7 separate regions of the Homo sapiens genome follow, and all the other regions are linked to region 1. The links come from fine-mapping of genetic effects on gene expression. A gene starts in region 1. Each other region holds a variant in brackets. All regions are shown on one strand. Distances are between the middles of the regions.

Region 1 (4,070 bases):
CATCATTCCGAAGGGTTCTGTGCTAGGAACCTTACACGTGTTGTCTCACATAATCCTTAAAACTCAGAAATGATTTTAAATTAAATAGCACAGAGAGGAAAACTGACTGGAGAGGGAGCCTTTGCTTAGGTAGGCAACTTTAACTGGTTTATTAGCACATTCCCCTGAAGGGAAAGGGGGTGTGATTGCTCCTGAAGAGACCAAAGAGACTGGGCTCCTTTTTAATCAAAGCTCAGGAGGAGAGCTGCATTCCACTGTTTCACAGATGCTGTGAGGGTGACAAAGATGCAGGGCACCCACTGGAAACACAGACGGCACTCTGCGAAAGAGGAAGGGGCGCCAGGAGCTTGGGTGAGCAAGGTTGGAGGTGATTCTGCCCCTCTCCCCAGGCTTTCTGTGTGAGTCCATTCCTCCTCTCAGATTTATTGTTAGAACTTAAGACAAGCCAATTACATTTCATAATGTCTGTGTCATTCAGACGCTGAGAACTAATCCAGCCTTCTAAATGGTGCTTCTTAACTCCTTTCTTCAACAGGAGAGTTAATGTGTGGAATTAAGTGCAGAATCCATGGCCCTCTGTGGTGACGGTGATGGTTCAGGTTGTGTTTCTGGGTTCATTCTGGAAGCTCCCCCAAGGAAAGGAGGAAGGAAGCTTGCAGGGTGGGGCTTTGCCATTGCCCTGACTGGCTCTGGTTTCCTTGCCTGATACATTGAAGTCAGCTTCCAAAGAATGCCACCCAAGGTTTTGAAGGGGCACAGTGCCTCTGTCCTCACAAAACCAGCCTGCATATGAGTTTACTGAATTCATTTAGGTCCTGCTGAATCTTTCCCATTTGTTCCTTCTCTGTTTCAATATTTCAATGCTTCCCTGGAGGGGCCCAACCTTTCTGGAGGGCAAAGATCTGTTGTTAGAGAAAAAGAGCAGCCAGAGGAGGAAGATGACTTGAGGGTAGGCAGCAGTTGGGCAATCAGTATTGAAAGGTTGCTTTCAGCCTGCCAAGACTTGGGGAATTAGAAAAGCAAGATAAAACAAAACAAACAAACAAACTATATATATAAAAAACAATTTTTTAAAAGTTTTTTTATGTTCTATATTACTATTAGCTATATATTAATGAATGTTCCTTTAAAGCAGTGTAGTCATTATTGCTATTATTATTATTATGGTTAGTTATAGACAGTGGAATATTGTTCTTTCTCTATATTATGATTACTAGCACTATTACTGTTATTAGTTACATGTTATTGAAAGCTTCAAAGCAGCATAGGCTTTTTATAAATATTTTTGCTCATCTTTATGACAATTCTCCAGTGTTGGTATTGCTCCTCTATTTAACAGATTAGAAAACTGAAGCTTCAAGAACAGACTTGCCTAACAACAGGAAACTTGTATGTCTCGAAGTGGCAATTCACACATAAGGCTCCATGACTCCTGAACTCTCACAAATATTAGTTGGCTCTTTTCATGGTTTTACTGAAGTTGCTAGAAGTTTACAGAAAAGGAAGTGCAGGAACATTTCACAAATCTACAATCTGTGAGTATCACATCCTGTATAGCTGTAAACACTGGAATAAGGAAGGGCTGATGACTTTCAGAAGATGAAGGTAAGTAGAAACCGTTGATGGGACTGAGAAACCAGAGTTAAAACCTCTTTGGAGCTTCTGAGGACTCAGCTGGAACCAACGGGCACAGGTAGGTAATGCTGGAAGACTTTTCTCATCTCACTATTCCCTTGCCGTGACCTCATTAGAGGAGTAATTTAACTTGAAACTCCTTGACAGCAGTTAAGAGACACTAGGGCCTTTTGGAAATAGAGTGGGCAAATGGAAGGAGTATCTGTTTTTAACTCTGTGTCCGCTGTATTCTAATTGCATAAACTCAGTGAGTCACTTACCTAAGGTTGTGTAATTAATGGGAGCAGAGCTCTTGTCTCTTCAAATGTGTTTAGACCATTTGTAAACTGGGCGGTCTGTGCTTTGAGAATGGTGCCGTGAAAAGGGATCCAAGCTGAGCTTAGCAACAAATACCACAACCTACTTGGTCTTTATGCTAAAAAGTGGGGAGGACCAACGACGCGAGCCTATGTGTTATGAGTCCAAGACTTGTTCTCATACCACTGCATGCAGCTGTTTCTCCAGCCTGAGTAAACTCAGACACAGGCTGGCAATGCCAGGTGGGAAATTAGGAAGAGGTAGAATGATCTAGAGATTTATGCAAAGGCTTCAGACTCCAGGAAAGCTGAGATCCAAGACTGGTTTTACAGCTTCCCGGCTGTGTGAACCAGGGTGAACAATAAGGGTAACTGCAAATATTTCTTCAGCATTAACTCTGGGCCACACATATATGCAATAGGTATATTATTTGCATTCATAACTTAAACTTTATTTTGCATTTTCTTATTTATTACATGTTTTTACTAACTTACTAACATGCAGAGCTGTTGTAAGGATTAAAAGCACTGCAGGGTAAAAATTAAGAATGTGTCTGGTAAAATATGATAAACATATCTGAGTGCTAATAAATAGTATTATTAAACAAGAAATAAGTAAGCAGAGTTCATTTATTAGTCTGAAAATTCATCAAATATATGGCAATACAGTTGTTGTCAGTAGGACTAGAGGAAAGGGAGGTTGTTGCATATTGCAAATTTTGTGTGACCATTTGCCTCTGGACATTGAGACCTCTCAAGATTCATGTTGCTGCCACCCTGTGATGTGTTTATTATCTATAATGGACTGTGTCAAACATTATGGAAAAATCCTCATGAAACCAAGATTGTGTGGTTTTCACTGTTCCATACTATCAGTTTCTTTCTCTAATGGACAGGCCAAGCCTAGACTAATTGGCAAAGACTGAGTTACTGTTTTTGGAGTCAGAACCTGGGAGCTCTGTACTTTTTAAGAGCTAAATCTATTTTTTCTTACATAGTTGGCAACACCATCATGACATCACAACCTGTTCCCAATGAGACCATCATAGTGCTCCCATCAAATGTCATCAACTTCTCCCAAGCAGAGAAACCCGAACCCACCAACCAGGGGCAGGATAGCCTGAAGAAACATCTACACGCAGAAATCAAAGTTATTGGGGTAAATCTAATTCAGAACGTGTTGGAGAGGGGTTGGGGGAAGTGCCAAGAGATGATATATGTCTTGGGACTGGACATCTGTCGTGAGTGTGGAGACCCTAAAATTTTGCTAGAGGGACTTTAGGGTAGAAGCCACTTGGAGAAAACTGTCCCAGAACTTTTCCACAAGAGGTTGTCTTAAAAATATATTTTCCCTTATTCTGAATATGAGGAATTGATTTTCTATTGTTGTCTTTGTATTTTTACAATACAGTGCTTTTCTATATTTTCTTTTACAAAAGTAATGGTGGTAAATAATGACATATTGTGTGTATGTGTATATATTCCACAACTGCATGCTTAATAATCCAAACTGACTTTTTGCAAATAATTTTTCCCTCACTGCAAATTAGAGGAAATATACAACTCCTTTTCCTCTTTTCTCCTAACGTTTTTGAGAATGGAAATGATATTCACCTTTTGTTTGTCTGTTTCTCCTCTCACCCAGAATTTATTAAAGAAGCTGTATTGCATGAAGGGAGGAGAGAAAGAAGGGATCTATCTTGGATTGGGAGGGAAACACAGAGTTTTGGTTTCTAGAATTGCCTCTGCACTTATGTGATCTGAGGTGAGGCACTCTGTTTGACTGGATTTCAGGACCTGGTGGGACTGGTTTCCTTGCCTCATGTACAATCACATGGGTTTCTATGAGGCTCATGTGACATAAGGTCTAGAAAACTTTTTGGTAAATGATAATAGAGCTGTGAATCTCTGAGGTGGATGTCAGGAAGGAAAACTACCTCCTAAGACAGAGCTTCAGTTATACATGAGAACATGCAGTATTTGGTTTCTGTCCCTGTGTTAGTCTGCTAAGGGGGATGGCCTCTAAATGATGAGAACACATGGACACGTAGAACAGAACAATGCACACTGAGGCCTTTCAGAGGGTGGAGGGTGGGAGGAGAGAGAGGATCAGGAAAAATAACTAATGGATACTAGGCT
Region 2 (4,070 bases), 470 kb before region 1:
AAATATCTTTATGTGTTTTGCCTATTCAGAAGTCTATCCACAAACCTGTTCTCTAGACTCCTATGTCACCACTTTTCTAATCATATTCGTTTCAAGTCCCTGACATTCCAGCCACACCATTGGCCACAGCCCATGAATTAGTATATAGTCACACACCCGGCTATTTCTCCTTCCAAGCAAAATATACAACCTCGTGTACTGCTTGAAGTTCTGTCCACTGGGAAGATTTTTCTTCATTATTTTCTTCAGGAATGCCTCAGAAAGGGGCTACAGTGCTACAGCTGTCTACTTTGGGGTTGTGCCTGGGTATTATGCAACCTTGGCTGGTCATGTTTCTTTACCTGACAGGATAACCCAAACCTTTAATCCTGAAGAGTCTGGGCCATTCATAGGCTTGCCTGGATTGGGTTGTTGTAATTTCCCATTGACCTTAATCATGGGGCATGACAGTACTAAGAGACATCTTAAAGGATCTCCTGTATTCCAGACATATTCATTTTTGCCTCTATTCATTGTGAAGTAGTGGTCCAATTTCCCCTTGGCATCCTGGATTGATCACCCTAGCTAACATCGTTAACTCTCATTTTTGCCTGTTGACTCAGAGGCATGTAGGTATGCCCTGCATTCTGATAGTGTACTGGGTAGGTCTCAACCAGCTGGAGATAATAATATATTTGATACGTTGAGAATTTTCCTAGTGCAAGGTTTAATGTTGCTGACTTAAATGCAAATGTGATTCAAGGTCCCACAAATATTGGATAATACAAAAGGGTATAGTATTCTAAGATTGAGGAGAGCTGAGCGGGAGATCATTGAAGCAGAATGTGACCCACCTGAGCTGAATGTAAGGGGCACATGTTGACAGTACAGTGCCCCAGGGTCTACAGCCTTTTCTGGTTTTAAGCCCATTACCTGACCACTTTATGATTGATGAGCTTTGATTCAAACTGTTTACAGACACAGGCAGAAAATGGACCTCTCATATATCAGCAAACACAGAATGTATTTGTTAGAACCCTGGGTGGATTGTGGTAACGTTGAACTATTCCGGAATGTTTTTTTGGGTCCGTCACATTTGAGTCCAATTAGCTTTAGGCTAGTTATCATCACCTTAGGACACTTTTGTCAATTCTCCTTCCTTTGGGGAAGATGTGGTCAATGTCTTTTCCTTTTTCTATTAGGAAGAAGCAACACTAGTCATTTATTAACCCAAGTAGCACTTAGTCCTTACCCCCATTGCTTTGGTGCCTTCTTTTAGGATAAATCTTCTCAGCATTTTAACAGAGATATTGTATAGCAGTTATAGAGGATGAATGGACTCCTTTGCTATAGAGAAATATAGAGAACAAGTAATACTAATGATTATTTTGAGATAAGGCACTTGAAATGGAAGCCTCTGATTTTCCACTGCTTAGCAATTCCTTGCAAAAAGCTTTTTGCATCAACCCACTGACACTATTCTCTGCTAAACAGCAATAACTTCCTGGCAAAAGCCAAAAGCTACCTCTTAGATTTTATTCTTCTGTAATGACCTTAAAATGAGACTGAGTAGATACCTTTTGATGTAGCTGACCCACTCCCATTATTTTCGTCTTTCCTAGAGAAGTAAACTGTAACAGAAAAATGTAAAATGTGGTATGG[G/A]GTGTAAAAGTGTAGAGGTTTTGTATGCAAGTGAGGTTGGGTTGTCATCAGCTTAAAATAGGTATATCTACAAGATTTTTTATTTAAGCCTCATGGTAAATACAAAAGAAAGCCTATAGCAGCAACCTACAGAATGGGAGAAAATCTTTGCAATCTACCCATCTGACAAAGGGCTTAATATCCAGATTCTACAAAGAACTTAAACCAATTTACAAGAAAAAAAAAACCCCATCAAAAAGTGGGCAAAGGATATGAACAGACACTTCTCAAAAGAAGACATTTATGCAGCCAACAGACACATGAAAAAATGCTCATCATCACTGTTCATCAGAGAAATGCGAATCAAAACCACAATGAGGTACCATCTCACACCAGTTAGAATGGTGTTCATAAAAAAGTCAGGAAACAACAGGTGCTGGAGAGGATGTGGAGAAATAGGAACACTTTTACACTGTTGGTGGGACTGTAAACTAGTTCAACCATTATGGAAGACAGTGTGGCGATTCCTCAGGGATCTAGAACTAGAAATACCATTTGACCCAGCAATCCCACTACTGGGTATACACCCAAAGGATTATAAATCATGCTACTGTAAAGACACATGCACACGTATGTTTATTGTGGCACTATTCACAATGGCAGAGACTTGGAACCAACCCAAATGTCCATCAATGATAGACTGGATTAAGAAAATGTGGCACATATACACCGTGGAATACTATGCAGCCATAAAAAAGGATAAGTTCATGTCCTTTGCCAGGACATGGATGAAGCTGGAAACCATCATTCTCAGCAAACTATCACAAGGACAGAAAACTAAACACCTCATGTTCTCACTCATAGGTGAGAGTTGAACAACTAGAACACGTGGACACAGGGTGGGGAACATCACACACCAGGGCCTGTCAGGGGGCTGGGGGAGGAATAGCATTAGGAGAAATACCTAATGTAAATGATGAGTTGATCGGTGCAGCAAACCAACATGGCACATGTGTACCTATGTAACAAACTTGCACGTTGTGCACATGTACCCTAGAACTTAAAGTATTAGAAAAACCAAAAAAAACCCAAAACAAAACAAAGAAAGCCTATAGCAGATGTGAAAAAGATAAAAAAAAAATCAAAGCATATCACTACAAAAATTCAACAAATCACAAAGGAAACCAGCAAGATTGGAAGAACAAAGGAACTACAAAACAGTCAGTAAACAAATACCAAAATGGCAATACTAACTCTTCACTTGTCAAACATTACCTTAAATGTAAATAGATTAAATTCTCCAATCAAAAGACAGAGTGGTTGAATGAATAAACAAATAAGACCCAACTCTATGGAACCTATAAGAGACTCACTTCACCTTTAAAGACACTCTTAGACTAAAAGTGAAGGGATGGAAAAAGATATTCCACACAAAGGGAGACCAGTGCATGGGTAGCTATCTTATATGTGTCAAGATAGACTTTAAGTAAAAAATCGTAAAAAGAGACAAAGTAATTATATAGTGATAAAGGGGTCAATTCATCAAAAGGACATAACAATTGTAAATATATATGCACCCGACATTGGAGCACCATATAAATGTGTGCATATATATAATATTAATAGATATGAAGGGAGCAATAAACTGCAATTCAATAATAGTAGGCAACTTCAATATCCCACTTTCAGCAATGGACAGATCATCCAGACAGAAAATCATTAAGGAAATCCTGGACTTGAACTACACTGTAGACCTAATAGACCTAATATACAAATAAAGAACATTTCTTCTAATAGTAGCAGAATACACATTCTTCTCAAGTACTAATGGAACATTCTCCAGGATACATCATATATTAGGCTCCTCTCAAGTTGTATTAGTCCATTTTGTGCTGTAATAGAATACCACAGACTGTGTAATTTATTGGCTCAAAGTTTTGGAAGCTGGGAAGTCTAAGATTGAGGAGTTGGCATCTGGCAAGGGTCTTACTGTTGTGTCATCCCATGGTGGAAAGGCAAAGAGATGGTGAGAGATAGAGAGGCAAAAGAGGACCAAACTCTTCCTTTTATAATGAACCGATTCCCTCAATAACAAAGCCACTCCAGTGATAAGGCATTAATCCATTCATGAGAGCAGAGACATCATGGATGAATCACTCTTAAAGGTCTTGCCTCTTAATATTGATAAAACGGCAACTAAATTTCAACACGATTTGGGAGGGGACAAACCTTCAAACCATAGCATTTATCCCATAGTCCCCCAAAACATATGTCCTAATATACAAAATGCAGTCATTCTATCCCTAGAGACCCAAAGTCTTAACTTGTTCCAGCAACAGCTCAAAAGTCCAAAGTCAAGAGTATCATCTAAATCAGATATAGGCATGAGATTCAAGGCATGATTCATCCTGAGATAAGTTTCCCTCCAGCTGTGGGCCTGTGAAATCGAA
Region 3 (4,070 bases), 40 kb before region 1:
GCCCAAATCAACTATCAGTAAGGGTAATGGACTTGCCATTACTGGCTTAGACTGATTAAGATTTACCTCTGTAGCTGGGAGGAGTCTACACTACCTTTTAGCTCAGGAAAAACTGAAGAAAATGATGGTTTAGTTAGCAAGGAAAAAGAGATGTGGCTGGTAAACAGGCAGTTTCTAATATAGAGTCTACTGACTATCAAATCTCAGGAAATTGTTACCTTAGAAAATTAAATTGTTATTTGATACATTTTGTTTCATAAGTTTAATAACAGTGACTATGATTAATATTAAATTAAAATTAGAATTGGAATTTAAGTTTAAAAACCTTTTCCCAAGAGAAAACACAAGAGAGTTTTGATGCAAATTGAAAGTAAAATTGAGAATAAAATACCAAGTCTTACCTATTGACAAAAGAAAAATAAAATTTATGAGGCGGGTTTATGTTAGAATCAAGGAATCTATTCTAGCATTATAGGGTTTCCATTTATTTCCAAAACTGAGAATGAGACAGTTTAGAGTTTTATAATAGAGCTTAATTTTTGCTCCCCTTCACTCGTGTACAGCGGAAGTGAAAGATTTGAAGGAGAGTGTATTAGTCAGGGTTCTCTAGAGGGACATAACTAATAGGATAGATGTGTATATATATAAAAGGAAGTTTATTAGGGAGTATTGAGTCACACAATCACAAGGAGAGGTCCCACAATAGGCCATCTGTAAGCTGAGGGGCAATGAAGCCAGTTTGAGTCCCAAAGCTGAAGAACTTGAAATCTGATGTTTGAGGGTAGGAAACATGCAGCACGAGAGAAAGATGTAGGCCAGAGACTAAACCAGTCTAGTGTTTCTATGTTCTTCTGCCTACTTTTATTCTGGCCACACTGGCAGCTGAGTAGATTGTGCTCTCCCAGATTGAGGGTGGGTCTGCCTTTCCCAGTCCACTGACTCAAATGTTAATCTCCCTTGGCAACCCCTTCATAGTCACATCCAGGAATGATATTTTGCATCCTTCAATCCAATCAAGTTAACATTCAATATTAACCATCAAGAGTCCACCCCTTGTCAACCTGAACCCACACACATCTCCTGAAGTCATACATGATTTTCAAATAAAGAAAATAAAGACAAAAGGCCAAAATTATGCCTAACATAATGCAGCTATTTTTTGTACAACCCAAAATGCACCAATCCCCTATACAAATGCTATTACCTAAAGTTAACAACACTTAAATGCTAATATGAAGTTAATAGGTCTTATGTCACATGGTAAAGAAAAAAGAAAGAAAATAAAATGAAGATATTTTCTTACTACAAATGTATACATGCACAAACATGTTCTTAACAAAAGAAGGAGGAAATACTCATGACAATTACGGTCTTCATTTCTGCAACTGATCACATGGTTGTAGCTGGTATTGATGACAGCCTTCTTCTACCACCGATTCTGTATTCCCTTTGCCTTCAGGAAGCACCTCAGCAGGTTGTGTTTTTTTTTTTCCTGGTGGAGTGACCAAAACCTTCATTCCAGAAGGCCTAGTCTGGGCCATTTGTAGTCCTGCCCAGATTGGGTTGTTGTAGTTTCCCATTGACCTTAATCATAGGGCATGGTAATACTAAGAGACACCCTAAGGGATCTCCTGTATTCCACACATACTTCCTTACCTCCATTGTGGAGTAGTAGACTAATTTTATCTTGATAGTCCAGGTCAGTCACCCTAGCCAACACTGTAACTCCCTTCTTAGCTGGTTGACTTAGAGGTAAGAGGAGCCCAAAATGGCCAGGTGGCAATCTTAACTTCCAGCTTAATGAAATCATTGTTGTCTCCCGGTGGCAACGTTCCTTCCTCTGGAACTAAGACCTCTAGGCCAGCAGAACATAGTGTTGTGGAAACAGGAAGCAAAAATTTTGCTGGTAGGTCACTAGGGGTGATGGTAAGTGGTGCCACTTCCACTTATACCCCTTGATTTCTGGACCCACAAATCTTGGCTATAGCAGAAACAGTACCTTATATTAGACGCTGATTCAGAGCATGCACAGCCTTCTGGAGAACATTGCCCCAGCCCTGAAAAGTATTGTCACCTGGTTGATGTTGTAATTGTGACTTCAAAAGGACATTCCACCATTCTATCAATCCAGCTGCTTCAGGATGATGGGAAACATGGTAAGACCAGTGAATTCCATGAGAAT[G/C]AGCCCACTGCCGCATTTCTTTAGCCAACAAGTGAGTGCCTTGGTCAGAGGCAATGCTATGTGGGATACCATGACAGTGGTTAAGGCATTCCATGAGTTCTTGGATTGTAGTCTTGCCAGAAGCATTGTGTGCAGGATAGGCAAACCCATATCCAAAGTAAGTGTCTATTCTGGTGAGGAAAAACCGCTGCCCTTTCCGTGATGGAAGAGGTCTAATATAATCAACTTGCCACCAAGTAGCTGGCTGATCATTCCGAGGAATGGTGCTATATTGAGGGCTCAGTGCTGGTCTTTGCTGCTGGCAAATTAGGTGCTCAGCAGTGGCCATAGCCAGGTCAGTGAATGGAAGTCCATGTTGCTGAGCCCATGCATATCCTCCATCCCTGCCACCATGGCCACTTCGTTCATGGACTCATTGGGCAATGACAGGGGTGGCTGGAGAAAGAGGCTGACTGGTGTCCATAGAATGAGTCATCCTGTTTACTTGATTATTAAAATCCTCCTCTGCTGAGGTCACCGTTTGATAAGCACTCACATGAAATACAAATATCTTCACAGTTTTTGACCACTCGGAGAGGTCCATTCACATACCTCTTCCCAAAATTTATTTGTCACCAATTTTCCTATCATGCTTCTTCCAAGTCCCTGACTACTCAGCCAAACCATTGGCTATAGCCCATGAATCAGTATATAATTGCAGATCTGGCCATTTCTCCTTCCAAGCAAAGTGCACAATGAGGTGCAGTGCTCAACATTCTGCCCACTGGGACGATTTTCCTTCACCGCTGTCCTTCAGGGATGTCCTAGGAAGGGGCTGTAGTGCTGCAGCTGACCACTTTGAGGTGGTGCCTGCATATCGTGCAGAGCCATCTGTAAACAGGGCCCTTGTCTTCTCTTCCTCTGTTAATTGATCCTGGGGAACTCCCCATGAGACCATCAGTGCAGGCTGGGGGAGAGAAGGCAGTGTGGCAGGAATGGGGATCATGAGCATTTGTGCCACTTCCTCATATAACTTACTTGTGCCCTCAGGAGTTGCTCAAGCCTGATCACATATATGCCACTTCCATTTGATGATGGAATGCTGCTGTGCATGCCCCACTTTTGGCTAGACAAGTCAGAAAGCACTCAATTCATGATAGGTAGTTCAGGTCGCATGGTGACTTGATGACCCATAGCCAACCGTTTAGTTTCTACCAAAGTCCAGTAACAGGGCAAGAGCTCTTTCTAAAAAGGAAAGTAGTTATCTGCAGAAGATGGCAGGGCCTTCCTCCAAAATCCTAGAGGCCTCTGCTGTGATTCATCTATGGGGGACTTCCAAAGGCTCCTAACAGCATCCCTCTCTGCTGCTGACACCTCAAGCACAATTAGATCTGCTCTGTTCTATGGCCCAAGTGACAGAGCAACTTGCATAGCAGTTTGGACCTGTTGCAGAGCCTTCTCCTGTCCTGGACCCCACTCAAAACTGGAAGCCTTTCAGGTCTCTTGATTAATGGGCCAAGTAACACCCCCAGGTAACGAATGTGTGGCCTCCAAAACCCAAATAAGCCCACTAGGCATTGTGAGTCTTTCTTGGTTGTAGGGGGTGGGGGCAAATACAGCAACTTATCCTTCACCTTAGAAGGAACATCTTGACAGGCCCCACACCACTGAACCCCTAGAAATTTTACTGAGGTAGAAGGTCCCTGAATTTTAGTCATATTTATTTCCCATCCTCTGGCATGCAAATGTCTTACCAATAAGTCCAGTGTGCTTGCTACTTCTTGCTCACTGGATCCCATCAGTATAATGGCATCAATATAATGGACCAGTGTGATATTTTGTGGAAGGGAAAAGTGATCAAGATCTCCCTGAACAAGGTCATGACACAAAGCCAGAGAAGAGTTGATAT
Region 4 (4,070 bases), 350 kb before region 1:
GGAAGAGTGGGAACAGTCCCAAGCTAACATGCCACAGACATGCACTGTTCTTACTGAGGTCCAGTAGATTTTCTTAAATAAACACTTCTCAAGTTCTTGTATGCTTGGTCAACTTCCTGAATCTTTAGAAGGTTGTTCATTGACAATTTTGTTCAGTTTTATAATTTCATTTTTAGGGAGAGTTACCATGTCCTCAATCAGCCATTCTGGAAATGCAACTCATTCCCTCTCTTCAGAAATCCTTTTACCATGTAGTCTTATAGTTGTTTCTGTATTTCAATCAGTTGTTGATCATAGTAGTCTTCCTTGACCATCCTACATAAAATAATCTTGCCTTATCTCCTTAGTTTGCTTTATTTTACTTCATAACATTTTTCAGTTCTTGACATTTTATAATTTTATGTGTTTGTTTATTGCCTTTCTCCCCCAGTGGAATGCAAACTCCCTAATGGAGAGGCCATTGTTTTGTTAATCATTGCATCCTTAGTGCCTATGACAATGCCTAGCAAATAGCATGCTCTCCGTAAATATTTGAGAAAGAATGAATGAATGTTAGATATGTAGTCTTTTAAGCTTGTGAGAAAATAATCATTCTCATAAACTTTTGTGAGTTGTTATAGCATTTTGGGATGTTGTTACACTTGATCCTGCAATGACATTTCTAGGAATCAAACACCTAAAGAATTAGTGGTCCTGTATGCAAAAATATTTATACTCAAATGTTCACTGCATCATTGTTTATAATTTAGAAAAAACTGGAAACCAAGCTACATATGCAGTAATTAGGGAATGCTAAATACTAAGAAAAACAATGAAGGCAATAAAAGGCATTATTTAGATATGTTTTGTAATGGAAAGATATTTCTAATCATTGCAAAAAATGAATGTGACAAAATAATGTGAATATAATACATACAATTAGTAAAGAGAATGTGTGTGTATTCGTCTTTTTTTGTATAGAATTGGATGTGTGGATACGATGAGAACTATATTAAAGAAAAATCACTTTTTACTCTATATGCTTTTTGCTTTTAAATGTAGTTTCATGTATTACTGTTATAATTTTATGCTATTTATAAAATAACAAAAATAAAAAATAAAGGCAATATCACACATTCCATTTATATTAGTTCTAAATATTTTGTATCAGTGCACTTCATCTTCTCATAGAGTGTAGTTACTAGAAATCAACATCTTTTGATTTGCCAGAGAGTGGGTAAACACTTACCAAATTGGAACAGCTGTATATTGAGTGTGTAAGTGCAATAGAAAATTCCAAACCGTAGAAGAACAGTAAAATACGTGATACTTCCCTCCCAAGTTTCTATAACCAAAAAACAGGGAGAAATCTTAATGCTATTATCTTTAGTGAGTGCAAACATGATCATGGAAGGAGCTACTGGTATGAGAGTCAAAAAAAAAAAAAAAAAAAAGGAAGGAAAATAAGAACAGATAAACCTTTCACCATTTGATTTCCTTAGACATTTCTACTCCTTTGCCCTCTGCTACACTTTCCCTAGCTTTCAGTTCCTCAATTCAGCATCTGTGGCTTCTGCATTTGATCTCCATTGCTTAGCATTCTTGTCTCACTTCTGACAGCTTTTACAGAGTCGCTGGCACAGCTCACTATCTAAACTCTCCAGTTAGTAAGATTTGACTTTCCTGTCTCTAATGATAAGATGGCCACCAACAGATTTATCAAGCAATCCTTTTCTATTAAAACAGCTATTATTAATCACAACCCTTCTTAAATTTACATACATGGTGATAAAACTCTCACATATATATTGCTCTAATATCATTTAAAATGATTA[A/G]TACATTCAAAAAGAGTTCAAAGAACATTTAACTTGGAAGCATAAGGTGATTGTGACTGCTGGGATAAATAAAACAGATTCCCTTCTGTTGCTATCAGAAAGATATTTTCAACTACAAATCCGATTGGTTAGTTATGTGAATAATATTGGTACTCATCCTGAAAATGTGGGTTTTGTGCTGGCTGTGGAAAGACAAGAATGATACTCAGAACTAGAAAGAATGACATCATAATTCTCTCCCTTTCAATTCCTTCTCTAACTCTTCCTCCTCCTTCTTTGTTTGGTTTATTTAATATCTTTTATATTCAAGAAACTATCTGGTAGTAGGAATTAGATGATAGGAATGCAATGACACATAACTTCCTGATTTCTTAGAGTTTATAATGAAGTAGAAGAGACAGAAAGATAATATAAGGTACCATAAAAAATGGATAAAAACTTGCTCAATCATTATAGGGGACAGGAGGGACAGGAGGTTCACTCCAAGCTATTACTCTCTGGGAAGGCTTCATAAAGTGGTAGGACCTTTGAAATAAGGGTAGGACTGAGAAAAACGAAGGAAGGAAACAGCATTCTAGGCAACTTTAAATTTTTATTTGCTTGTTTCCTTGTAACCTATCTTGTTTCAGAAAGAGTTTAATAGCATAAATTAAAAGTGTGACAAAATAATTTAAAAATTGAGACATAAAATACAACCAGTAGAGTAAAGCTAAAATACATATTTGAACAACCTATGGTTTTTAATGTGAGAACAAAACTGAGTGTAAGCAATATAACATTTTGAGAAAATGAAAAACAGGTTTTAACTGAATTACAGTGTTCATTCATATATGATATAAACAGGAGGATAAGGAAAAGATGTAGAAAGTTTGAAATACCAAGGTAAATAATTTTGATTTACTTTTGTTGGCAGAAATGCACAATCATAATCATAACATTTTAGCTAGAAAGTACTTGGGACCTCTTAGCTGACAAGACTGTGAAAAGTCATTTTACCCATATTCCTTATTTTTTTTAATTTTTTAATTTAATTTATTTTGAGACTGAGTCTCGCTCTATCACCCAGGCTGGAGTGCAGTGGCGCAATCTCGGCTCACTGCAACCTCTGCCTCCTGGGTTCAAGCGATTCTCGTGCCTTAGCCTCCGGAGTAGCTGGGATTACAGGTGCCCACCGCCATGCCCAGCTAACTTTTGTATTTTTAGTGGAGACAGGGTTTCACCTTGTTGGCCAGGCTGGTCTCGAACATCTGATCTCAAGTGATCCGCCTGCCTTGGCCTTCCAAAGTGCTGGGATTACAGGCGTGAGCCACCGTGCCTGGCCCCATATTCTTTAATTTATATGAGAGTGCTATTCTAAAACTCCCTCCCTGACTGAAAGCGGCAAAAGGTTGGCCAGAGCAGCTCAAATATGAAAACTGAGGAAACGGAAACACACACACACACACACACACACACACACACACAGAGAGAGAGAGAGAGAGAGAGAGAGAGAGAGAGAGAGAGAGAGAGAGACGGAATGAATGAGTTCCTGGCAGATGATGTAAACTGTAAGCTTCTGGACCCAGCTTAAGTAAAGTAAGTGACCCTTTTTGCCTTAAGTCAACTTGGGTTGTATTTCCTATTACTTAAAACCAAGATAACCCTAATTAATAAATACTTAAATGAAGAATAAGCAATATTTGGTAATTATAAAGACAGTAGAAAGAGATGAGGTATTATGTCAAGGTTTTGTATGTGGGAGATTGAAACGAGGGAGTCTTGCAGTATAGTACTTCTGAGGAGGTAAGTAATTTCCATTTTATATCTGTTGAGTTTGATATAATAGTGATAGAAACATAGCCAAGTAGAAAAGTCAAACTAGCTTTTAAAACAACAGGCCGGGAGTTTGGAAGAAAGAACAGAGCAGTTAACTAGCAGGCATTTTCTTCATTTCTCACAAAAGAAAACTTGGAAACAGTTAAGTTAAGAAACTTTTCCAGGGGTTTACACACAGTGAGTACTGAGGATAGTATTTAAATAAGTGCACTCTGATCCTGGAATCTATACTATTAACCATTTTGCTATATGAGGAGTATATTTCAGATGCATGCACTTTTCTGACCCTGCCTGGGAACACTGAAAACTTGATGACTTTGTAGATTTAGCCAAGCCCCTTGCTTATGTGAGAAAAGTTGGCATGTAAAAGTCCTGTAAAATGTTGGCTGCCTTAGCAAGTGTAAGTATATAATTCTGTAATGACACTAGAAAAAGATGGTG
Region 5 (4,070 bases), 46 kb before region 1:
TCTAACAACTGTTATAATATTGGAGGGGAATGTAGACCAGGTTTTGTCCTTAGGGAGGAATCTGCCCCAAAGTGTCAAGACTTTCTTTTGTCATTTCCAGGACCTCATCCTAAATTACATTTCTTATTGTAGCACCTTTTCTGCTGCCATGACAACCATGCAAGGAATGGAACAGACCACTCCAGGGGCTGGCCCTGATGTGCCCCAGCTGGGAAACATAGATGTCATACATTCATATCTGTGTAAAGGATTGCAAGAGAAGTTCTTCAAGAGGAAACCCAAAGTCCTTGGGGTAAGTCAATTGCAAATCTGGGAGAAGACCAATAGTGTTGTAAACTCACATTTGATCAGAGCTAATGCCCAATACACTGTCCCGCTAGCCTCATAATACATCAACCAGCCCTAGTAACATCAGAATTTAATTTCAGGCCCTTTCTTTGAAAAAATATATAATATTCTATCACATCCTGCTTCCAAATTAATTATATTTAAAATATATTGACTTCAGATCTATTCTAGGGTTGTGGGTCAGCCATGATAATTATATTTAACTTCAATATAGAAGAACGGCAAAAGAAAAGGCCCACCTGTCCACTAGCTGACTCCCCCTCCACAGGCCTTCCTGACAGCTGATAGATGTATATTGCTACTCTTTCTTTCTTGCAGCTTTTCTTAGCCTACTGCTCAGAGGATGAAAAATCTGCTATTCTCTGAGCATTTCCTTCTGGAGTCTCAGGCGAACGTGTCTAAAAACAATATAGAATTAAAACAGTGACAGGTTAGGGAAGGTGAAAGAACATTAAATATAGGTTTATCACTAGCCCAAGCTTCAAACCACTGAGAAAATGTCACTGTGGATTCTTTGGATTCCTTCTCTTTTTTTGCATTATTCATTTTTTTGGAGAGAAATATAGTTACTTCTCATAAAATATGTTATTTATGTTGGCACATACTAGGTTCAATTTTTAAATGTATGGATAATTATTTTAAAATATACTGTATGTTTTAGAGCAGTTTTAGGCTTAAAGAACAATTGAGAGCAAAGTACAGGTATATCCCATATGCCCCTTGCCCCGACACATGCATAGCTTTTCAATTATCAACTTCCCCCACCAGAGTGGGACATTTGTTCCAGTTGATGAACCTATGTTGACACATCATTACTCAAAGTACACAAATCACAATGGGGTTCATTCTCTGTGTTGTGTGTTCTATGGGCTTTAACAAAGGCATAGTGATATGAATCTACCTTTATAGTATCATACAGTATCCCACCAATCCCTGGCAATCACTAATCTTCTATCGTCTTCATAGTTTGCCTTTTCCAGAAAGTCATACAGTTAACATTATAAATTAGGTAGTTTTTAAAGACTGCCTTCCTTCACCTAATAACATGCATTTAAATTTCCTCTATGTTTTCTTATGGCTTAATAGCTCATTTATTTTTAGTACTGAATAATATTTCATTGTCTAGAGGTACCACAGTTTATTTATGCATTCACCTACAGAAGGACATCTTGATGGCTTCCAAACTTTGGCAATTAGGAGTAACGTTGCTATAAATATCTGTGTGCAGGTTTTGTGTGGACATAAGTTTTCAACTCATTCGGGTAAGTATGATTACTATATTGTATTG[T/C]AAGAGTATGTTTAGTTTTGTAAGAAACTGCCAAACTGTCTTCCCTGTTACTTTGCAATTTTGAAGATTTCAGTCAACAATGAAGGAGAGTTCCTGCTGTTCTACATAATTGCTAGCATTTGATTTCCTCAATGTTCTGGATTTTTTACCATTCTAATAGGTGTGTAGTCCAATCTCATTACCATTTTAATTTTCATTTCCCTGGTGACATAAGATGTGGGGCATCTTTTTATATGTTTATTTACCATCTCCATATCTTCTTTCTTGAGGTGTCTTATTAAAGTTTTTGACACATTTTTTTAATTGGGATGTTAGTATTCTTAATGTTGAGTTTGAATTTCGTTGTATATTTTGAATAACAATCCTTTGTCAGGTATGTTTTTTGCAAATACCTTCTGTCAGTCTGTGGTTTATCTTTTCTTCTGACAGTGTCTTCTGCAGAGCAGAATTTTTTAATTTTAATAAAATTAAGATGATTAATTCGGTATTTCATGGGTTGTGCCTTTGGTATTGTATTGACAAACTCATCACCAAAACCAAGGTCATCTAGATTTTGGCCTATGTCATCTGTTAAGAGTTTCAGAGTTTTGAGTTCAACATTTGGGTCTGTGATTTATTTTGAGTTAATTTTTGTGAAGGATACAAGGTATGTGTCTAAGTTCAATTTTTGCCTATGGAGGTCCAGTTTTTTAAGTAGTATTTTTTTTTTGGAAAGACTATTCTTCTAATTGTATTATCTTAGTTCTTTATCAAAGATCACTTGACTATACTTCTGTGTCTATTTCTAGGCTTTCTATTCTATTCCCTTGATCTATTTGTCTATTTCTTTGCCAATATCACACAGTCCTGATTACTATCACTTTATAGTTTGTCCTAAAGATGGGTAGTGTTACTCCTAAAACTCCTTCTTCTTCAAGATTGTTTTTGTTATTCTAAGTCTTTTGCCTTTCCCTATAAACTTTAGAGTCAGTTTATCAATATACACAAATAATTTGCTAATATATATATATATATTTTGAGATGGAGTCTGGCGCTGTCACCCAGGCTGGAGTGCAGTGGCCCAATCTCAGCTCACTGCAAGCTCTGCCTCCCGGGTTCACACCATTCTCCTGCCTCAGCCTCTGGAGTAGCTGGGACTACAGGCGCCTGCCACTATGCCTGGCTAACTTTTTGTATTTTTAGTAGAGATGGGGTTTCACCATGTTAGCCAGGATGGTCTCAATCTCCTGACCTCGTGATCCGCCCGCTTCGGCCTCCCAAAGTGCTGGGATTACAGGGGTGAGCCACCACGCCCGGCCATTTGCTAATATTTTGAGGGAGATTGCATTAAATCTACAGATTAAATTGGGAAGAACTGATGTCTTGACAATGTTGAGTCTTCCTATCCATGGACATGGAATATCTCTCCATTTATTTAGTTATTCGACTTATTTTTTTTTAAGTTTCTCTTATAGATTTTGTACATAGTTTGTTAGATTTATGCCTAACAAACACCAAATACCAATACCTAAATATTTAATTTTTAGGGTTGCTAATTTAAATAGTATTGCATTTTTAATTTCAAATTTCACTTATTTACTATAAGTACATAAGAAAGTAATTGACTCTTGTGTATTAAGCTTGTATCCTACAACCTTAATATAATCATTTGTTAATTCCAGGAGTTTTTGGTTGATTCTTTCAGATATTCTACACAGACAATCACGTCATCTGTGAATAAAAGCAGTTTTATTTTTTTCCTTACCAATTGTATACCTTTATTTCCTTTTCTTGTCTTACCATTTCAGCTATGACTTCCAGTAAATGGTAAAAGGAGTAGTGACAGGCTTATCCCTGCCTTGGTCCTGATCTTAGTGAGAAAGCTTTGAATTTCTCCATTAAGTATGAAGTTAGCTGTAGTTTTATTAATAAATATTCTTTATCAACCTAAACAAGTTATCCTCTATTAATAGTTTTTCAAAAGTTTTTATAATAAACAGGCATTGGATTTTGCTCAATATTTTTCCTGCATCTGTTGATATAATCATGTGATTTTTCTTCCTTTTAGCCTGTTGATGTCATTAGTTACATTCATTGATTTTTGAATGTCTAGTCAGCCTTGCATATCTGGGATAAATCCCATATGGTTATGGTATATAATTCTTTTGATACACTATTAGATTTAGTTTGCACATGTTTTGTTGGGAATTTTTGCATCTTTGTTCACCAGAGATGTTGGTCTGCAGTTTTCTTTTCTTGTAATGTTTTTGACTTTTTTTTTTGGTAGATAATAGTGCTAGCTCCATAGAATGAGTTAGGGAGTATTTCCTCTTTTTCTGTTTTCTGTAAAGAATTGGTATAATTTCATTTTCAAGTGTTTGGTAGAATTCCAAACCTTTCCAGGCCTGGTGCTTTCTGTTTTGAAAATTAATTAATTATTTATTTTATTTATTTA
Region 6 (4,070 bases), 400 kb before region 1:
ACATTTATTATTTTTAAAAAATTTATATAGGTTTTTGGGAACAGGTGGTATTTGGTTACATGAGTAAATTCTTTAGCGGTGACTTGTGAGATTTTGGTGCACCCATCACCTGAGCAGTATACACTGAACCCAATTTGTAGTCTTTTATCCCTCACCCTCTCCCACCCTTTCCCCTGAGTCCCCAAAGTCCACTGTATCATTCTTATGCCCTTGCAGCCTCATAGCTTAGCTCCCACTTATGGGTGAGAACATACAATGTTTGGTTTTTCATTCCTGAGTTACTTCACTTAAAATAGTAGTCTCCAGTTCCATCCAGGTTGTTGTGAATGCCATTAATTTGTTGCTTTTTATGGCTGAGTAGTATTCCATTGTAAATGTATACCACAGCTTCTTTATCTACTTGTAGATTGATGGACATTTGGGCTGGTTCCATATTTTTTCAATTGCAAATTGTGCTGCTATAAACATGTGGGTGCAAGTATCTTTTTTGTATGACCTTTTTTTTTCCTCTGAGTAGATACCCAGCAGTGGGATTACTGGATCAAATCGTAGTTCTACTTTTAGTTCTTTAAGAACTCTCCACACTGTTTTCCATAATGGTTGTATTAGTTTACATTCCCCCACCAGCATAGAAGTGTTCCCTTTTCACTGCATCCATGCCAACATCTATTTTTTTTAATTTTTTTATTATGGCCATTCTTGCAGGAGTAAGGTGGTATCACATTGTGGTTTTGATTTGCATTTCCCTGATCATTAGTGATGTTGAGCATTTTTTCATATGTTTATTGGCCATTTGTATATCTTCTTTTGAGAATTGTGTATTCATGTCCTTAGCCCACTTTTTGATGGGACTGTTTGATTTTTTCTTGCTAATTTGTTTGAGTTTCTTGTAGATTCTGGATATTAGTCCTGTGTCAGATGTGTAGATTGTGAAGATTTTCTCCCACTCTGTGGGTTGTCTGTTTACTCTGATGTTTACTCTGCTGACTGTTCCTGTTGCTGTGCAGAAGCTCTTTAGTTTAATTAAATCCCACCTATTTATCTTTGTTTTCGTTGCATTTGCTTTTGGGTTCTTGGTCATGAAGTCTTTGCCCAAGCCAATGTCTAGAAGGGTTCTTCCGATGTTATCTTCTATATATTTTTTTTTAGATTTAAGTCCTTGATCCATGTTGAGTTGATTTTTGAATAAGGTGAGAGATGAGGGTCCAGTTTCATTCTCCTATATGTGGCTTGCCAATTCTCTCAGCACCATTTGTTAAATAGGGTGTCCTTTCCCCACTTTATGTTTTTGTTTGCTTTGTCAAAGATACACCAACTGTAAGTATTTGGCTTTATTTCTGGGTTCTCTATTCTGTTCCACTGGTCTATGTGCCTATTTTTATACCAGTGCCATGCTGTTTGGGCTTTATAGTATAGTTTGAAGTTGGGTAATATGATGCTTCCAGATCTGTTGTTTTTGCTTAATCTTGCTTTAGCTATGTAGGCTTTTTTTTTTTTTTTTTGGTTCCATATGAACTGTAGGATTGTTTTTTTCCAGTTCTGTGAGGAACGATGGTAGTATTTTGATGGGAATTGTGCTGAATTTGTAGATTGCTTTTGGCAGTATGGCCATTTTCAAAATACTGATTCTACCCAGCAAATGAGCATGGGATGTTTCTATTTATTTCTGTCATCTATGATTTCTTTTAGTGGTGTTTTGTAGTTTTCATTGTAGAGGTCTTTCAACTCCTTAGTTAGGTGTACTCCTAAATATTTTATTTTTTTTGCAGCTATTGTAAAAGGGGTTGAGTTCTTCATTTGTTTCTCAGCTTGGTTGCTGTTGGTGTATAGCAGAGCTACTGATTTGTGTACATTAATTTTATATCCTGAAACTTTGCTGAATTCATTTACCAGTTTTAAGAGTTTTTTGGATGAGTCATTAGGGTTTTCTGGATATACAACTGTATCATTAGGAAACAGCAAGAGTTTGACTTCCTCTTTATTGATTTGGATGCCTTTTATTTCTTTCTCTTGTCTGATTGCTCTGGCTAGGACTTCCAGCACTATGTTGAATAGAAGTGGTGAGAGTGAGCATCCTTGTCTTGTTCCAGTTCTCAGAGGGAATGCTTTCAACTTTTCCCCATTCAGTATTATGTTGGCTGTAGATTTGTTAGATGGCTTTTATTACATTGAGGTATGTCCCTTGTATGCCAATTTTGCTGAGGGTTTTAATAATAAAGTGATGCTGGATTTTGTCAAATGCTTTTTCTGCATCTATTGAGATGATCATGTGATTTTTGTTTTTAATTCTGTTTATGTGGCGTATCACATTTATTGACTTGAGTATGTTAAAACACCCCTGCCTTCCTGGTGTGAAACCCACTTGATCATGGTGGATTACTTTTTTG[A/C]TATGCTGTTGGATTTGGTTAGCTAGTATTTTGTTAAGGATTTTTGCATTTATGTTCATCAGGGATATTTGTCTGTAGTTTTCTTTTTTTGTTATGTCCTTTTCCTGGTTTTGGTATTGGGGTGATACTGGCCTCATAGAATGATTTAGGGAGGATTCCCTCTTTCTCTGTCTTTTGGAGTTGTGTCAGTAGGATTGGTACCAATTCTTCTTTGAAGGTCTGATAGAATTCTGCTGTGAATCCAACTGGTCCTGGGCTTTTTTTTTGTTAGTAATTTTTAATTACCATTTTAATCTTGCTGCTTGTTTTTGGTATGTTCAGAGCTTCTATATCTTCCTGGTTTAATCTAAGAGGGTAGTAAATTTCCAGAAATTTTTCCATCTCCTCTAGGTTTTCTAATTTATGTGCACAAGGTGTTCATAGTAGCCTTGAGTTAACTTTTGTATTTCTGTGGTTTCAGTTGTAATATCTCCCATTTCATTTCTAATTGAGCTTATTTGGATCATCTCTCTTTTCTTGGTTACTCTTGCTAATGGTCTATCAATTTTATTTACCTTTTCAAAGAGCCAGCTCTTTGTTTCATTTATCTTTTGCATTGCTTTTTTCCCCCAATTTCATTTTGTTCTGCTCTAATCTTGGCTATTTCTTTTCTTCTGCTGGGTTTGTGTTTGGTTTGTTCTTGTTTCTCTAGTTCCTTGAGGTGTGACCTTAGATTGTCTATTTGTGCTCTTTCAGACTTTTTGATGTAGGCATGTAAGGGTATGAACTTTTTTCTTAGTACTGCCTTTGCTGTATCCCAGAGGTTTTGATAGTTTGTGTCACTATTATTCAGTTCAAAGAATTTTGTAATTTCCATTGTGATTTCATTGTTGACCCAATGATCATTCAGGAGCAGGTTATTTAATTTCCATGTATTTGCATGGTTTTGAAGGTCCCTTTTGGAGTTGATTTCCAATTTTATTCCACGTGGTCTGAGAGAATACTTGATATTATTTCAGTTTTCCTAAATTTATTGAGACCTGTTTTGTGGCCTATCATTTGGTCTATCTTGGAGAAAGTTCCATGTGCTGATGAATAGAATGCATATTCTGCAGTTGTTGGGTACAATGGTTTTGTAAATATCTGTTAAGTCAATTTCTTCCAGGGTATAGTTTAAATCAATAGTTTCTTTGTCGATTTTCTGTCTTGATGACCTGTCTAGTGCTGCCAGTGGAGTATTGAAGTCCCCCCTATTATTGTGTTGCTATCTCATTTCTTAGGTCTAGTAGTAATTGTTTTATAAATTTGGGAGCTCCAGCATTAGGTGCGTATATATTTAGGACTGTGATATTTTCTTGTTGGACAAGGCCTTTTATTATTATATAAGGTCTATCTTTGTCTTTTTTAACTGCTGTTCCTTTGAAGTTTGTTTTGTCTCATAGAGGAATAGTTACTCCTGCTAGCTTTTGGTGTCCATTTGCATGGAACATCTTTTTCTACCCCTTTCCTTTAAGTTTATGTGATTCCTTATGTGTTAGGTGAGTCTCTTGAAGGCAGCAGATACTTGGTTGGTGAAGTCTTGTCCTTTCTGCAAGTCTGTATCTTTTATTCTAATTCTGTCTTCTGAACTCTACATTCCATGTCCAACAGGCTACTTGACATCTCCAGTTGAATATTAAATAAATACTTCAAACTCAACATTTT
Region 7 (4,070 bases), 56 kb before region 1:
GGCTTGGCACGAGGAGATGGGAGAAATACAGAGTTAAAAAATGGTTGCGTAGAATTAGAATATGATTGATGGAGCATAGAAGGTATGTAACGGAAGGTATCAATGACAAACTACCAGACATTTAACACAGACAACTGAGCTAATTGTTGGGCCTTCTACCAAGAAAGGACATTTGCAGTCGCATAGCCCTCTTAGCATTCCTGTTACCTTTAGCTCTTGCCTCTCTTGATTAGGGACTGCTTGTAGTGTTCTGAAGTAATCTCCACATAATATTCCTTGTGCCACCTTCCTTTATCTGAAAGATAAATTTTGAGGAAGACTGAATATCTTCTAATTTGGTCTTCTAATGTTTGAAATAAAAATTACCTCTTCTCTTTGCTGGAACAATTTGATAAATGATCAAATTATGGGCTTTATTATAGTGACTTCAAAATTAACCCCAGAGGGGGACAATTCTCTCAAGTTCAGCAAAATTTGAGGGTATGGATTCAGTTTAAGACCAAAAATAAGGCCTGCTATTTTATTTTATTCGTTTGCTCCAAATCTAAATTTTGTATTCTGTTCAGGGGATGCTGAAGTCTACTTATAGGTTTGATTATACCTACTCAATAAAATGTAAATGTAAGTCACCTCATAAACTCCATTATCATTAGAACAGAGATTACAAGAGGAAGAGGAGGGCCTCTTGGCCCACCTCTACATAGTCTTGTATCTACCTAGTCCATGAGAGCAAAAACAAGCACAACCCTGACTCTTCTGACCAATCTTTGAGACAAACTGCAAAAGAGAGGAAGAGTCAACCTCTGACAACACGGTACCATGAATAACATGCTCTCACCAGTTATATAGACCCCTCCTTTCTGCTTTTTCACTTCCCCCAAGACAGGACAGGTTGGAGCAGGGTCATGCCAGGAATAAAGCCCCTCTTTAGCATGTCCTTGAGTGGTAGGAAGTGTTAGAGGAAATTTATGTTTTATACTTCAAGCCAGAAATGAGTAAGTGATAGTAGGAAGACCAATAATAATAGTCAATAGGTAGTTAGTATTTATTAAGTGACATGAACTGGTTTAAATGTTTACCTGTGCTATTTCATCATTAAATTTCTCTACGAGATATGCTGTATTATTCACAGAGTAGAGTTACAGAAACACAAGATTAATTAACTTGAGTAAGGAGTGGCAGGGCCAAAATTTAAATCCGGGTAATTTAATTCCAGAACTCGTTTGCTTAAGAGGATCCACTACACTAGTCTGGCGAATAGAAGAACTCTTTTATTTGCACATTTATTCATTCCTCAGTTGTTGGACATTTGGGTTGTTTGCACCTTTTGACTATTATAGGTAATACTGCTAGGAAAATTCATTTTACAAGTTTTTGTGTGGACATATGTTTTTATTTCTCTTTGTATGTATCTGGGAATGGAAGGGATAGGTCGTAAGGCTGGTTCATGGTTGACATTTTGCAAAGAATCAGTTAGGGAGGAATCCTCCTTATGTTTTAGGAATAGTTTCAGTAGGATTAGCTCTTTGGTATTTATTAGCTCTTCTGTGGTATAAACACTTCTTTGTACATGTGTTAGAATTTGGATGTGAATCTATAGGGCTCAGTAATCTAATCTTCCACCTTAATAAACTGGAAAAAGAAGAACAAACTAAATGGAAACAACTTGTAGAAAAGAAATAATAAAGACTAGAGTGAAAATAATAGAGAGTAGAAACACATTAGAGTAAATCAACAAAACCCAAAGTTCATTCTTGCAACGATCAACAAATTTGAAAAACCTTTAGCTATATTGAATGACAAAAATTACAAGAAGAAATCACTAAAATCAGGAATGAAAGAGGCAGCATAATTACCAAACTTACAGAATTAAAGAAATTATAAGGGATACTATAAAATTATATCCAAATAAATCAGATAACATATGAAATGGTCAAATTTTTATGAAGATACTACTAAAACTGACTGAAGAAGAAATACAAAAATAAGAAGAAATACAAAATCTGAA[T/G]AGATCTGTAATAAGAGATTAAATGAGGAATTTTAAAAACTTTTATAAAGGAAAGCCCAGGCTCCTGTGATTTCACTGGTGAATTTTACTAAACATTTTAAAAAGAATTAATACCCTTCCATCAAAAACTAGAAGAGAAGGGAACAATTCCAAACTTATTACATAAGGCTAGTATTATTTTGACACCAAAATCAAGAAAAGACAACATAAGCGAACAAAACTACATATGAATGTCTCTCATGAATACAGACACAAATGCTAAAAAAAAATTAGCAAGCAGAATTCGGCAACATGTAAAAAAGATTATATATGAGGACAAAGTCAGATTAATCTCAAGAATATAAAATTTAGCATTCAAAAAATCAGTGTTACATAATGCATTAATAGAATAAAAGACAAAAACCGCAAAAAGCCACCACGAATGCCTCAATAGATTAAAAAATTAACAAAATCCAATACTTTTTATGATAAAAATACTCATCCAATGACGAATAGAATGGAATCACTCCCCTACCAAATAAAAAGCTATTAGAATTAATGAATGAGTTAAGCAAGCTTGAAGGATACAAATAATATACACAAATGAACAGACACTTCAAAATAAGATGTACATGCGGCCAACAGTCATATGAAAAAATACTCAACATCACTGATCATTAGAGAAATACAAGTGAAAACCATAATGAAATGCCCCCTTACACCAATCAGAATGACTATTAACAAAAAGTCAAAAAAATAAAAATAACAGATACTAACGAGGTTATGGAGAAAAAGAAATATTAATACACTGTTGGTGTGAGTGTAAATTAGTTTAACCACTGTGGAACACTGTGGTGATTCCTCAAAAACCTAAAAACAGAAATACCATTCAACCCATCAATCCCACCGTGGGTATATACCCAAAGGAATAGAAATCATTCTATTTTAAAGACACATGCACACATATGTTCATTGCTGCACTATTCACAGTAGCAAAGACATGGAATCAACTTAAATGCCCATCAATAGTAGGCTGGATAAAGAAAATGTGGTATATATACACCATGAAATGCTATGCAGCCATAAAAAAAGAACAAGATCATGTTCATTGCAGGAACATGGATAGAGCTGGAGGCCATTATCCTTAGTAAACTAACACAGGAACAGAAAACCAAATACTGCATGTTCTCACTTATAAGTGGAGCTAGATGATGAGAACACATGGGCACATAAAGGGGAACAACACACACTGGGGCTTATTAGAGGGTGGAGGCTGGGAAAAGGGAGAGGAGCAGAAAAAATAAATTATAGGTACTAGGCTTAAAACATGGGTGATATGGTTGGGCGCAGTGGCTCATGCCTATAATCCCAGAACTTTGGAAGGCTGAGGTGGATGGATCACCTGAGGTCAGGAGTTCAGGACCAGCCTGGCCAACATGGTGAAACCCATCTCTACTAAAAATACAAAAATTAGCCGGGCGTGGTGGTGCATGCCTGTAGTCCCAGGTATTCGGGAGGCTGAGGCAGGAGAATTGCTTGAACCCTGGAGGCGGAGGTTGTAGTGAGCTGAGATCACACCACTGCACTCCAGCCTGGGTGACAGAGCAAGACTCGGTTTCAAAATTTAAAAAAAAAAAAAACCTGGATGATAAAATAATCTGTAAATCAAACCCTATGACACAATACCTGTATGACCAACCTGCACATGTACCCCTGAAGTTAAAATAAAAGTTAAATTAAATATATATACATACAAAAATAAATTGGAGTTCTATATGCTAGCACTGAATAATTTAAAAATGAAATTAAGACAACAATCTCCTTTACAATAGTTTCAAATAGAACAAAATTTATCAAAATAAGCACAAGACTTGTACATCGAATACTACAAAATGTTAAAAGAAATTAAAGAAAATTTAAACAAATGAAAAAAAACTCATATTCAGGAACTGGAAGGCTTAATATTGGTAAGATGGTAATATTATTCAAATTGACCTACAGATTCAACACAATCTTTATAAAAAATTCAAGCAACCTTATTTCAGAAATTTGCAAGCTAATTCCAAAATCATATGGAAATACA

Evidence for each region. PIP is the estimated chance that this variant, and not a neighbour inherited with it, causes the effect. A credible set is the group of variants that fine-mapping cannot tell apart.
Region 2: its variant is the best candidate, but not a certain one, in a credible set for the expression of MS4A6A in whole blood (INTERVAL, PIP 0.81).
Region 3: its variant is the best candidate, but not a certain one, in a credible set for the expression of MS4A6A in whole blood (TOPMed, PIP 0.75).
Region 4: its variant is the best candidate, but not a certain one, in a credible set for the expression of MS4A6A in whole blood (TOPMed, PIP 0.50).
Region 5: its variant is the best candidate, but not a certain one, in a credible set for the expression of MS4A6A in whole blood (TOPMed, PIP 0.63).
Region 6: its variant is the best candidate, but not a certain one, in a credible set for the expression of MS4A6A in whole blood (TOPMed, PIP 0.50).
Region 7: its variant is the best candidate, but not a certain one, in a credible set for the expression of MS4A6A in whole blood (TOPMed, PIP 0.75).

The regions. Positions count from the first base shown.
Region 1 is chr11:60,180,601-60,184,670 of GRCh38, reverse strand. MS4A6A (membrane spanning 4-domains A6A) reads left to right here and starts at 1,588. Exons shown (of 6, transcript NM_022349.4): 1 at 1,588-1,693; 2 at 2,930-3,090. The coding sequence starts at 2,944.
Region 2 is chr11:60,650,945-60,655,014 of GRCh38, reverse strand. It overlaps LINC00301 (long intergenic non-protein coding RNA 301), which reads right to left. Exons shown (of 7, transcript NR_026946.1): 5 at 1,232-1,326. All of the region lies in intron 4 of LOC105369321 (a long non-coding RNA gene), which reads left to right. Among named protein-coding and RNA genes, the nearest start is that of LINC00301, 37 kb to the right of the region's middle. The variant G/A (reference allele first, on the strand shown) is at 1,642.
Region 3 is chr11:60,220,472-60,224,541 of GRCh38, reverse strand. The region is part of intron 3 of MS4A4E (membrane spanning 4-domains A4E); the gene reads left to right. Among named protein-coding and RNA genes, the nearest start is that of MIR6503, 13 kb to the right of the region's middle. The variant G/C (reference allele first, on the strand shown) is at 2,183.
Region 4 is chr11:60,526,619-60,530,688 of GRCh38, reverse strand. It overlaps MS4A13 (membrane spanning 4-domains A13), which reads right to left. Exons shown (of 7, transcript NM_001012417.3): 6 at 1,229-1,324. Among named protein-coding and RNA genes, the nearest start is that of MS4A13, 13 kb to the right of the region's middle. RefSeq lists a silencer at 1,475-1,624. The variant A/G (reference allele first, on the strand shown) is at 1,815.
Region 5 is chr11:60,226,134-60,230,203 of GRCh38, reverse strand. MS4A4E (membrane spanning 4-domains A4E) reads left to right here. Exons shown (of 9, transcript NM_001393391.1): 2 at 133-292; 3 at 1,577-1,610. The coding sequence starts at 149. Among named protein-coding and RNA genes, the nearest start is that of MS4A4E, 15 kb to the left of the region's middle. The variant T/C (reference allele first, on the strand shown) is at 1,637.
Region 6 is chr11:60,579,946-60,584,015 of GRCh38, reverse strand. It overlaps the pseudogene MS4A19P. Among named protein-coding and RNA genes, the nearest start is that of LINC00301, 34 kb to the left of the region's middle. The variant A/C (reference allele first, on the strand shown) is at 2,388.
Region 7 is chr11:60,236,291-60,240,360 of GRCh38, reverse strand. All of the region lies in intron 1 of MS4A4E (membrane spanning 4-domains A4E), which reads left to right. Among named protein-coding and RNA genes, the nearest start is that of MS4A4E, 4.8 kb to the left of the region's middle. The variant T/G (reference allele first, on the strand shown) is at 2,009.